2 separate regions of the Homo sapiens genome follow, and region 1 is linked to region 2. The links come from fine-mapping of genetic effects on gene expression. A gene starts in region 2. The other region holds a variant in brackets. All regions are shown on one strand. Distances are from middle to middle.

What was found. PIP is the estimated chance that this variant, and not a neighbour inherited with it, causes the effect.
Region 1: its variant is fine-mapped to the expression of CPNE4 in stomach (GTEx, PIP above 0.99).

Annotation. Positions count from the first base shown.
Region 1 is chr3:132,283,337-132,288,717 of GRCh38, reverse strand. No RefSeq gene overlaps it. Among named protein-coding and RNA genes, the nearest start is that of ACP3, 31 kb to the left of the region's middle. The variant A/TTA (reference allele first, on the strand shown) is at 2,947.
Region 2 is chr3:132,032,361-132,037,741 of GRCh38, reverse strand. It overlaps CPNE4 (copine 4), which reads left to right and starts at 2,728. Exons shown (of 16, transcript NM_130808.3): 1 at 2,728-3,175. RefSeq lists a silencer at 2,504-2,603 and an enhancer at 2,979-3,148.

The sequences.
Region 1 (5,381 bases), 250 kb before region 2:
TCAGAAAGTTAATCAGAGTAGAAAAGAGGGGGAGAAATAAAAATAAAGCAAGATCGCAGCACATTCACCATTAATCATGAGGTCAGCTTACTCTCTGACCTGCCTACTAAGAGTTATTCACTGCCTGTTACCCCAGAATCACACAGACCTGTCACCACTTAACTGTTCTGTAGATAACAACTTAAACATTGTGAAATGTTGTTTTCCATTTGAGATATTCTTTCAGGTCCTGCATACCAGTGAAACTATTGATGTCAACTGGTCTGAGGGACCTCACTGAGGCCCCATGAAAAGCTGACTTAACAAAGAATGCAATTTCCACATCCTGATTATTTCATTACGCTTACCTGACCAATTAATGACCTCAATTTTCTAGGCCCTTGCCCTCCATGATCCCCTTAAAAACCCCAGCGCAGAACATCTTGGGGAGATGGATTTGAGTCTCCTCCTATCTTTTCACTTGACCACTCTGCAATCATTAAACTCTTTCTCTGCTGCAAACCCTGTTGTCTCAGCCTATCAGTCTGATACTGCACAGCGGACATACAAACCCATTGGTCCTGTAACAGTGAGAACTACAGTGAAGACAATAAAATAAGGTGACATGACTGTGAGTGACTTGAGGTGGGGGATACTTTAGATGAGTGGTCAGAGAGGGTTTCTATGAGGTGACATTTGAGGTGAGACTTGAATGCAGGAAAGGGGAGAGCCATCAGAGCATCCCAGGAAGTGTAAAAACCCTGAGGCAGGGAGTGAGATTGTGGTCTCAGAGGAAAGAAAAAAGGCCAGAGTGACTGAAGAATTGTAAAAATGGGAAAGGGCAGGAGCAGACAAGGTCAGAGAGGTAGGAAGGTGTTGAATCACCCAGGATCTTGTTGAGGCCATGGTGAGGAGTTTGGATTTATTCAAAATGCAATGGGAAGCCAAATGGGGAGTTCTAATCAGGGGAGTGATATGCATTAAAAATTCTGTGGCTGCTTGTGAAGAATGAATTATGGAGAAGCAAAAAAGGGAATGAGAACAGCCAGGAGGCTACTGTAGTGGCCCAGGAAACAGATGATTGTAGCTTGGATCAGGGTGGATTTGGGGAAGTCAAAAGAAGTGAATGGACGAGAAAAATACATACTAGTATTGGATATGAGATGTGAGGGAGAAGGGTGAGAAAAGGAAAAAAGGAAAATAGCTCAGAGCAGTCTGAGCTATGTGAGATATGCAGAATTTATCAGGCTCAGAGAAACATGAGTATGGGACTTCAGTCACCTTCTCCGCTATGTCTGGGACAATTGTTTAAAGGTATTTTGTTCTTGACTAGCTGCTACATCCATTTTCTTCCTGTTTTTGTGATACAAAGAACAATATATAGCCAATCATTAGCTTATGTTATTTTAATGTAAATTCTTGGTAAACAACTTAGGAACTGCCTCTTCTTTTACTCCTTAAAACTTCAACTAGTAACTGCTACTAATCAGGGTGTATATTTATGGCAACTTGAATCTATGCCCCCATGTGGCCATCCTCAAGCTTTGGACTCCTATAAACTCTATACTTAATTTTTCTGGTCCTCATTATTTAAGGCTAACGGGAGAATCAAGGGGCACTCCTAGGCATTGGGCTTCAGAAATTGGGTGAATGGCAACAAAAGTGTCAGACACAGATGATGAAGCTTCAGAGAGACACAGGTTTATCTTATTCATTTAAGACATACTTTTATATCTCTTACTATCCTGGTTCTCAACCTTAGCCTCACACTGAAGTTACCTTAGAATTAAAAAAATAGGCTGCGTGCAGTAGCTCATGCCTGTAATGTTAGCACTTAGGAAGGCTGAGGTGTGAGGATAGCTTCAGCCCAGAAGTTCAAGATCAGCCTGGGCAACATGGTGGAAGCCCCATCTCTACAAAAAATAAACAAAGGTAGCTGGGTGTGGTGACTTTCCCCTATCTATAGTCCCAGCTACTCAGGAGGCTGAGGTGGGAGGATGGCTTGAACCCAAGATGGCTGCAGTGAGCCATGATTGTGCTGTTCTTGGATCTCACGCAAGAATTTGAGGCATATCCATAAAGTGAAAACAAGTTTATTGAGAAAGTAAAGAAGCAAAAGAATGGCTACTCCATAGGCACAGCAGCCCCAAGGGCTGCTGGTTGCCGATTTTTATGTTTATTGATTATATGCTAAACGAGGGGCGAATTATTCATGAGTTTTCCAGAAAAGGGGTGGGCAATTCCTAGAACTGACAATTCCTCCCCTTTTTAGACCATATAGGGTAACTTCTTGAAATTGCCATGGCATTTATAGACTGTCATGGCACTGCTGGGCATATCTTTTAGCATGATAATGCATTATAGTTAGTGCATATAATTAATGTACATGTCTTTGTGACCTGTACTTTGTGCCAACCTTTTATCTGATCCTGTGACTTAGAATGCCTAATCTCCTGGGAACGCAGCCCAGTAGGTCTCAGCCTTATTTTACCCAGCCCCTTTTCAAGATGGAGTTGCTCTGGTTCAAAGGCCTCTGACAATGCCACTGCACTCCAGCCTGGCTGATAGGGCAAGAGCCTGTCTCAAAACAAAATAACAACAATAAAACCCTGTGCCTAATTAGTTATTAGAGAATTTTTTGGAGATTTTAATTTAATTGCTATGGTATATGGGCTGGATATCAAGATTTTTAAAAGCCACAAGTGATTCTAATATGCCTTAAAATTTGAGAAGCACTGACTCATTACCTGGCTGGTTCTGTTTCAAATGCTTTACAGGTGTTAATTCGTTTAATTCTCATAACAATCATGAAAGTTGATCATAAGAATTGGGTCATTCTTGTCACTCACAACTAAAACAGAGTTGAGAAGCCAGGGGGAACAAGCACGCAGGGTACAACATTGCTGAAAGAATGTAATTCTCTGCAAGCCCAAACTGCTTGTTGTAACCTGAAACCAGTTTTATCTC[A/TTA]TCTTCTGAGATAACGTGCTGCAAAGGCTAGCACTAATTGTGCCCACAGCCACCATTCACCAGTTGAAGCTTTCTGACTCCCTAAATTCTTTCTTATGCCAATGAACTTTCTCAAAGAAGAATACATAACATTTCTCCTTTTTTATAAAACTGATATCGGAATAGGGCAGGGAAGTGCTGGGCGGAGAAGGGCGGGTCCCTGGCGAGGGCTCCACCCCCAGGCCTGTGCCCACGGACCTAGGTGAGGACAGGCATTTGTTTTCAGGTCCAAATGTTACATTTCCCAAGACCACCCTGGCCCACCATGCCCCCATCCCCCCATCCTGTGCCTATAAAAACCCTGAGACCCTAGTGGGCAGACACACCAGCGGCTGGACATTGAGAGGATCACAGCAGTGGAAAAAGACACAAGCACCTAGCCGTTGAGAGGAACGCACTGGCCTAAGAACATACTGACAGACGCCGGTAGGCCAGCAGGGCGGCAGGCCATCAACCCGCGGAAGGACACGGACTTTGGCCAGGGCGGTATAAGGTAAGCCCCGCTGCTGGGCGGCCTGGCTCCAGGGGAAAGCAACCTTCCATTCCATCTCCCTTCTGGCTCCCCCATCTACTGAGAGCTACTTCCACTCAATAAACCTTGCACTCATTCTCCAAGCCTACGTGTGATCTGATTCTTCTGGTACACCAGGGCAAGAAACCCCATGATACAGAAAGCCCTCTGTCCCTGCGATAAGGCAGGGTGTCTGATTGAGCTGACTAGCACAAGCCGCCTACGGACGGCTAAACTGAAAGAGCACCCTGTAACACAGGCCCACTGGGGCTTCAGCTGTAAACATTAACCCCTAGACACTGCTATGGGGTCGGAGCCTCACAACCCGACCGTCTGTCTGTATGCTCCCCCTAGAGGTGTGAGCAGCGGGGCACTGAAGAAGCGCGCCACACCCCCGTCACACGCCCTGCGAGGGGAATAAGGGAACTTTTCTCGTTTCAAAACTGCTAAGCCGTTCTTTGCTATTCGGACATACCCGAAGACCACCAGGTCTGTATGTATGGCCCAAATTGCAATTCTTTCTTCCCAAATAAAATATTAAATTTATGGATTCATCTCTACATGTTTATTTTGACTTTGATATAATTATATGAGAAAGGTACTATTATTAACTCTCATTTTATAGTTGAGGAAATTAAGGCTCAGAAAGATTAAGTTGCTCGTCTAAGGTCACATGACAGAAACGGAGCAGGGATCCCTCTTAGGGCCCCCCTCCCCCCCTTGCCAAGCATGGAAATAGAGGAAAATATTGAGTTCCTTCCGGGGAAATTCTAGGCAGTGAACTAGCCGCCTCACTAGCCCTGAGAAGTAAATAAGCAACTTGATAAGCAAGAAGATAATAGTAGCTGAAAACAATAGCCAAGGTAGTTAGAGTCCTGAGATGTTTGGTTCCCTATAGAAACTAAAGACAACATCTCAACATATGTCCCTGAGCTACTTTTCAGAAACACAGACCCCAGCCAAATGGATCCACTGGCATGTAGACCTCAGATAAGGGGCGATTGAGAACTGAACTCTGACTGCCGTTCTTTTTTCTAAACTTCTTCCTTAGGAGCCTAAAGGACGTCATACCCATGGGCCAGACCTAACATTCCTTTCTGCTGATCCCAAGTTTTTAGACAAAGTTTCCCTTCCTTAACCAATTGCGAATCAGAAAATCCTCGAATCCACCAATGACCTGTAAGTTCCTGCTTCAATATATACTGTCTTTTTAGGCCAAATCAATATATAACCTCCACATATGCCTTAAAATTCTGCCTGTAACTTCTACTTCCCTGAAATTTATCCCTGCTTTTAAAAACTCTTGCTTGTAAGCTATTGCGAAGGTTGGCTCTTACAGTGTGAGCTGCCTGATTCTCCTTGCTTGGTGCCCTGCAGATAAATGCCTTCTTTTCCCCCCTGCTGCAAAACCTTGGTGTAGATGTTTGGCTTTACTGCACTGAGTGAGCAGACCCTGGTTTGGTTTGGTAACATGACTTAAAAATTACAAAGAAAAGGAACAGGAACACAGCTCTCTGGTCCTCTGGTATTTAGAGCTGAAACAGAGGAGGAGGGGCCTGAAAACATGAAGGCAGAACTTAGAAGGGAAACAGGAGAGTGTAGTGTTGCAGAAGCTTGGTGGAGAGAGTATTTCAATGAGGAAGTGGTCAGCTTTTTTGAAAGCCCTGAGTGTTTGCTGAAGAAAGACAGAGACAGAGAAGTGACCACTGGATTTGGCAAGATGAGGTCGTGTTGAGTCTGATGGGAACAGTGCCTGTGGAGTGGTGGAGATGGAAGTACAATCACAACTGATTGAAAAAGGAGTGGGAGCTGAAGATGTAAAAGTAGTAACCACCAAGAACTCTTTGGGAAAAATTAGCTAAGAAAGGGAGCTGAAAACTGGGAG
Region 2 (5,381 bases):
AGCGGATGCCTCCTCTTATCTTATCAAACAGAAACCCGGCGAGTGAATCTACCCAGAGCTGAAGCTTCCTTTGCAACTTGGGAACACCAGGGCCACAGTGACTTTGTGGCTTGGCTTTAGATAAATTTGACCATGGCTGTAGAACCCAGCAGCTCAGAATCCATTAAAAGGAGAGCTGGGAGGAGGTGAGTGATAGAGACAAGGGGATTTTGATGTTACAATTGTTGAGGGGACTGTGGCTGGCGGGCAACTTGCTGTGGGGGCAGTGATTGAAAACATGGATTATTAGCTGGTTACAAATCTTCATTTGTACAGATGAGCTGTTGATTTCATATAAGAGGTGGAAGTAAATTCTGCTTTATGTGCCCTGTAAAAAGCTTCTTTGAATTTACCTTCAGTGTCATGCCTTCAGAAAAAAATTCCAAGTTTCTGGCATAAAGCTGCACGTTTTCTGCGCACTGGCATGCAGGCAACTGTTTGTTTCTAATTACGGAGCTGAAGCCTGCTGGCAAAGGAAACCATATTTGTCACAAGTTGTGGCATTGTGTTTAGTTTGTGTATCTATGCTTTTAACATGTAGGGCCAAAGATAACTATGTTGTTTTTCTTTTTCCCTATGAGCATTGACTCTATAACTTCTTTTCTATGGTCCATGTGTTCACTTATTCTAGCTGCCCCTTTAGAGACTGCTTCAATGAACAACCCCTATCCTCCCATTAACTAGTTGTGTTCCCTGGTCTGGTCATTTCAACCGCCCACACCCTGGATTTATTTTTGTAGATATAGTAAAACTTTCTTGGGCAGGTTGTTGTAAAAATTAAATGGGATGGTAAGTAGAGTGCCTAACAGATTGCCTGGAAATAGTACATGCTCAGCACATCTTAATTCCTTTTCTCTCACCTGTAATATAAGAAGTTTATGTTGAATGGTCCCTAAGGTATTTATATTATTTTTAATTTTATAAATGTAGAAGGTGGTAGACACCTTTCTAGGCATTGGGGTTATAATTATGAACAAGACGACAAAACAGACATATCCCTTGCCTTCATAGAAATTAAATTTTAGAGGATACAATTAACATGCAAGGAAATGCACAATGACTTTTCCTTCTTCTTCCTTCATCTTTGCAAGTTCAATCCAATTCAAATTTTGAGTTTATCTCTGAGGCTACCTCTTAACAAAACCTGGAAGTAATGTTTTTGGACTTAACATTTTCATATTTAGTAGTCATACACTGGTTTTGCCTGCTTAGCATCCGTCTCCCCTTTCCTGGTAGGAGGACCCTGAATATCCCTTGGAGAATTGTCCCTGTGTCTCACTCGCAATGTGTGTAGATCAGGTGGGGCTCCATCCTGGCTCCAGGAGTGCTATAGAAGACATCACATGCTCCTAGACATTGTGGAAGTCCTGGCCCATTAGTGTAATTCCATATCCAAAGGTCACAACGATTGACTTATGCATAGCCATGTGACCCAAGTTTTTGCAATCAAAGCAAATCCAAGGATTTCTGTGGTAGTTTCAGTGTACAGAGAAGCTCCCTGAGGTCCTTTCCAGGGTCCATGTTTAGTGTTATCCTATTTCAGAAAGGCTTTAGAGGTGACTGAAAGAAGAAAAATGTTATTTGTGTTCTGTCAGAAGGTTGTCCCTTTGTTTATCAAAGATATTTCTGTCTACTTCTATAGAACAATTAAGAGGGGGTCTTCCTCCTTACCCTATTGGTTCTCCTTTTCTGGACTTTGAAATTGAGAACTTCATGGTTAGTGAAAAGATTTTGGCTAATATCTCCTCCAACCTTCAGGTTGGAGAGGCTTTGTTAGATAGCCCCTTAATAGGGTGAGAAGGAAGACCTTCCATCTCCCCTCCACGTTAGATGTAACACACTCTATACCATCCCAATGTCAGAAAGAGACCGTCATTCACTTTACTTCATTAATTCCAAAGTCCAATTTGTGAGTCTGACAATACCAATGTGCAGAGAGAATTTAGTTGTCTAGTTTGTCTATGGTAGCAGACATAATCAGAAACAATGCCCTGTATTTGAATAAGTTCATTTGTCTGAATTTGAATAAGTTTGAAATAGGAAGGCCATACTTTCTCTCTAAAGTGCTTTAAAACATGTGGAAGTGGTCACCCCTTACATAAGACAGCATATTTATATCTATCTTTAAGCATAAGTACTCCCTAAGTATTTCTTTATCTTATTTGTGAGGTAGATGTATTCAGAAACTCATCATGAGATGAAGAAAATACTCTTTGTCCATTAATTTACTCATGCATTACTTACTAAAAATAATTTCCAGGCTCCTGCCATACGCCAGACAGTTTTGTAGACACGAAGGATCCAGAGATTAGCAACACCTTTACCATTTTTGGTGACAGTTAAGCACCCATCTAAGAAGTTTTCTTTGGTGAGTGCCAAAAAGTGTAACTCCCATTCCCCCCACACCCGCGCCGCGATACGACCGCTCCACCCTAGAGTGGAGATGGAGACCAAGCACTTGGAGATCTAAATCAAGTGTCCCCAGGAGCTCAGTTGAGCGACAAAGCTGAGCAGAAAGCCCAGACTGCGGGCGCGGCAGGACCACGGAGAGCGCCGCCGCCAAGGCCTGGGCGGGGCCTGAGCTCGGGTTCCCGGGGCAATGCTCGTCTCCGTCAGCAACCCCCAGGGGGCGCTCGCGCGGAGGTTTCGGAACCAGTCTCTTGCCGGGTTGCTGGGTGCATGGGATTCGTCAGAAGGTGGAAATCTCTCTGTGAGAAGCTGCCATCTCCCCGCCACCCGCTCGTCCCCTTCTCTTTCTGCCACCCTCCTTTCCTTCCTCCCTCGCTCCACTCCACTCCCTCCCTCTTTTCTCAGTACCCTCCTCTTTACTCTCCGAGTTAACTGAGAGCCGACCTGACATCTCCAACATTTTCACCCTCTTCCCCCACCCCCATCACCGAGAATGGAGTCAGGGTTTCCGGAGAGACCGAACTCTGCTCTCAGCACCTTTCCCAGCCGCTGTTGCTAAACTGACCTCGGAGGACGAGAGGGGAAGGAGGTGCGACGCCCCTTACATCAGTACAAAACTACCACACCAACCACCTCCACTTCAAAGCCGGATTTTGCATCCTGGGGGCGGGACAGACCTCGTCCCGGGCTGAATTCTCTCTCCACTCTTCGAGATTGGCACACCCAGGTAAGTAAATGCCAACTCTTCATTCCTGTGTTCCTGGGGCGCTGTGATTGCAAAGTCTGTTGGAGCTGCTGCGTAGCAAGACCAACTTTTGAGATGCACTGGTTCTCGCTCACCTTTGCACGTTTGTCATTGCTGTTGTTGTTTTAAAAAGCAGCAGCAAGCAACGTCTTTAATCTGAAGGGACTTCCATCCCCTACCTCTCGCCTTCTGACATCCACCCAACTCGCCCAGGTGGGGTGGGGCGAATGGAGTTGGGGAGAAAGACCGCGGAGGGGAGGGGACAGCATGGCACGGGTGAGGGATAGGTCAGGGAAGTCCCGAAGGCGGAAGAAGGGGTACGGTTTTCAAAATCGGGGAAGGGGAGGGGAAGGGAGTTCTGGCTGAAGTTGCAGCTTCCTCTCTGACAGTGAGAAAGCTGTGGGACATTGTAGTCCCTTCCAATGGCTTGACCTGGCTGCGGTTGGATTCAGCCTCTCAACCTCCTCCCCCACACTTCTTACAATGAGGTTCTAATAATATTTTAGTTGCCTCTTCTCAGTGTTAAAAACTAATGAATAGGCTTGCAAGTGCTTTGATTCAACGTAGTCCTTCAGCGCTTCTTCCTCTATGGAATAAAGTAGCCAGAAGGAAAGGGGGACGGGGACAGGGGACGGGACTGGAGGGACCACTGAAACCAAGCCACAGCTGAGTAAGGAGATCACGACCCCGCGTGGTATCACAGACACACGAGAACTGTTAGGGCTGAATCCAATGGAGATAATTAGGAGGTGGTCCACGCCAAGTCAAGCGAGTGCTGATTACCATCCGGTGAGGAGCAGGCTAAACCCTGATGAAAAATGCTCCTCCTTCATCTTGGAGTAGGTGGGCTTTAAGGCCCTATTTCCCATTCTATGTTCCAAATCTGACGGCGCCCCAGGGCGCCTTGGCGGATTGCCTTTCAGCCCCAGAACCTGCTAGGCTCCAGGGAAAGTCACAGGCGGCAGAGATGATCCAAGGGGCGCAAATCTATGAAGGGCTTGATGTGGGTGGTTGGGAAGTGGAGGGGGGAAAGGTGAGCAGAGTGAGGCGGGAGGGGGCTAGGGAAGCGAGAGTGCTCTGGGAAGCTTTGCAAGAGAGACATCTGAGAACCTCTCCCTCTACACACACACACACACACACACAGACACACACACACACTCACACACTCTCACAGGATTTCAGTGACTTGTGGGAAAAGATGCCTCAGCACCTTTACACCCTGTGTTCAAAACTATGCAAAACCAACTCTTCATCCTCTTGCTGCTTTGCCAGGGATTTTAAAAGCACTGTTCTGGTTTTTCTTGGCTCACTTGGTTTTGTTTCCTGAACAGCACTTTTGAGCTGTCCAAGATACTTTAATATGTTATCTTTAAATGAAACTAAATCCTGCTCATTCGCGCGCCCCCGCGCGCACACATACACAGGCGTACACAATTACCTTAACTTCAAATAAAGTGTTCTTTTCTCCATACTCTTCTATTCCCTTAACAATCCCTGTTCTCAAAGGCCTTTGTGTTTTATTTTCTGCTTTATAACAAAACAAAAAAACAAACACCCACCGTCCTATGACACAGGTGTTTTGAATCCATGTCAATTTTTGTAGTTAGTATATGCTGGTTAAACCACATAGCATATCCCCCAAAAAGCCAGAGGCAAGCAAAAACTTAATTTGATGCCCTTCAAGTTTCGGAAGGTCCCATTTCTTTTTATTAACCAAAAGATAAGATGAAGCTCAGCATGGCTATGGCTGTGATTAGATAACTTCTGATATTTTCATTTCCCTTACCGAGCTGCTGCTTCTAGGCTGAACTCATTCACCTGCCCATTTTTAAAGAGAGACTGACAAAGTCACTCTGGCAGGTCAGGACTCAGAGTTAGTCAAAAGTTCTCACATGTAGAGAGGTGCATAAAATAGAGGGAGGGTTGGAAAATGCAGTCAGAACACCTGTGTTAATAGTGCATACTAATAAAGGCCAACATTTTCTCAACTATCTCTCATGGGAAGATTCTTATGGTTTTAGAGGATCAAACTCAAAACACATCAGAATGAGGTGACTTTTCCATTAACATTACATAAAAGGATATATTGGTCTATAGCAATAGTAGATGTTTAATCCTGGGCAGTTTTGTATGATTGTGTGAGAAGAGATTGCCTATAATTGAACCAAACCTCTACTTATGTGTTAAC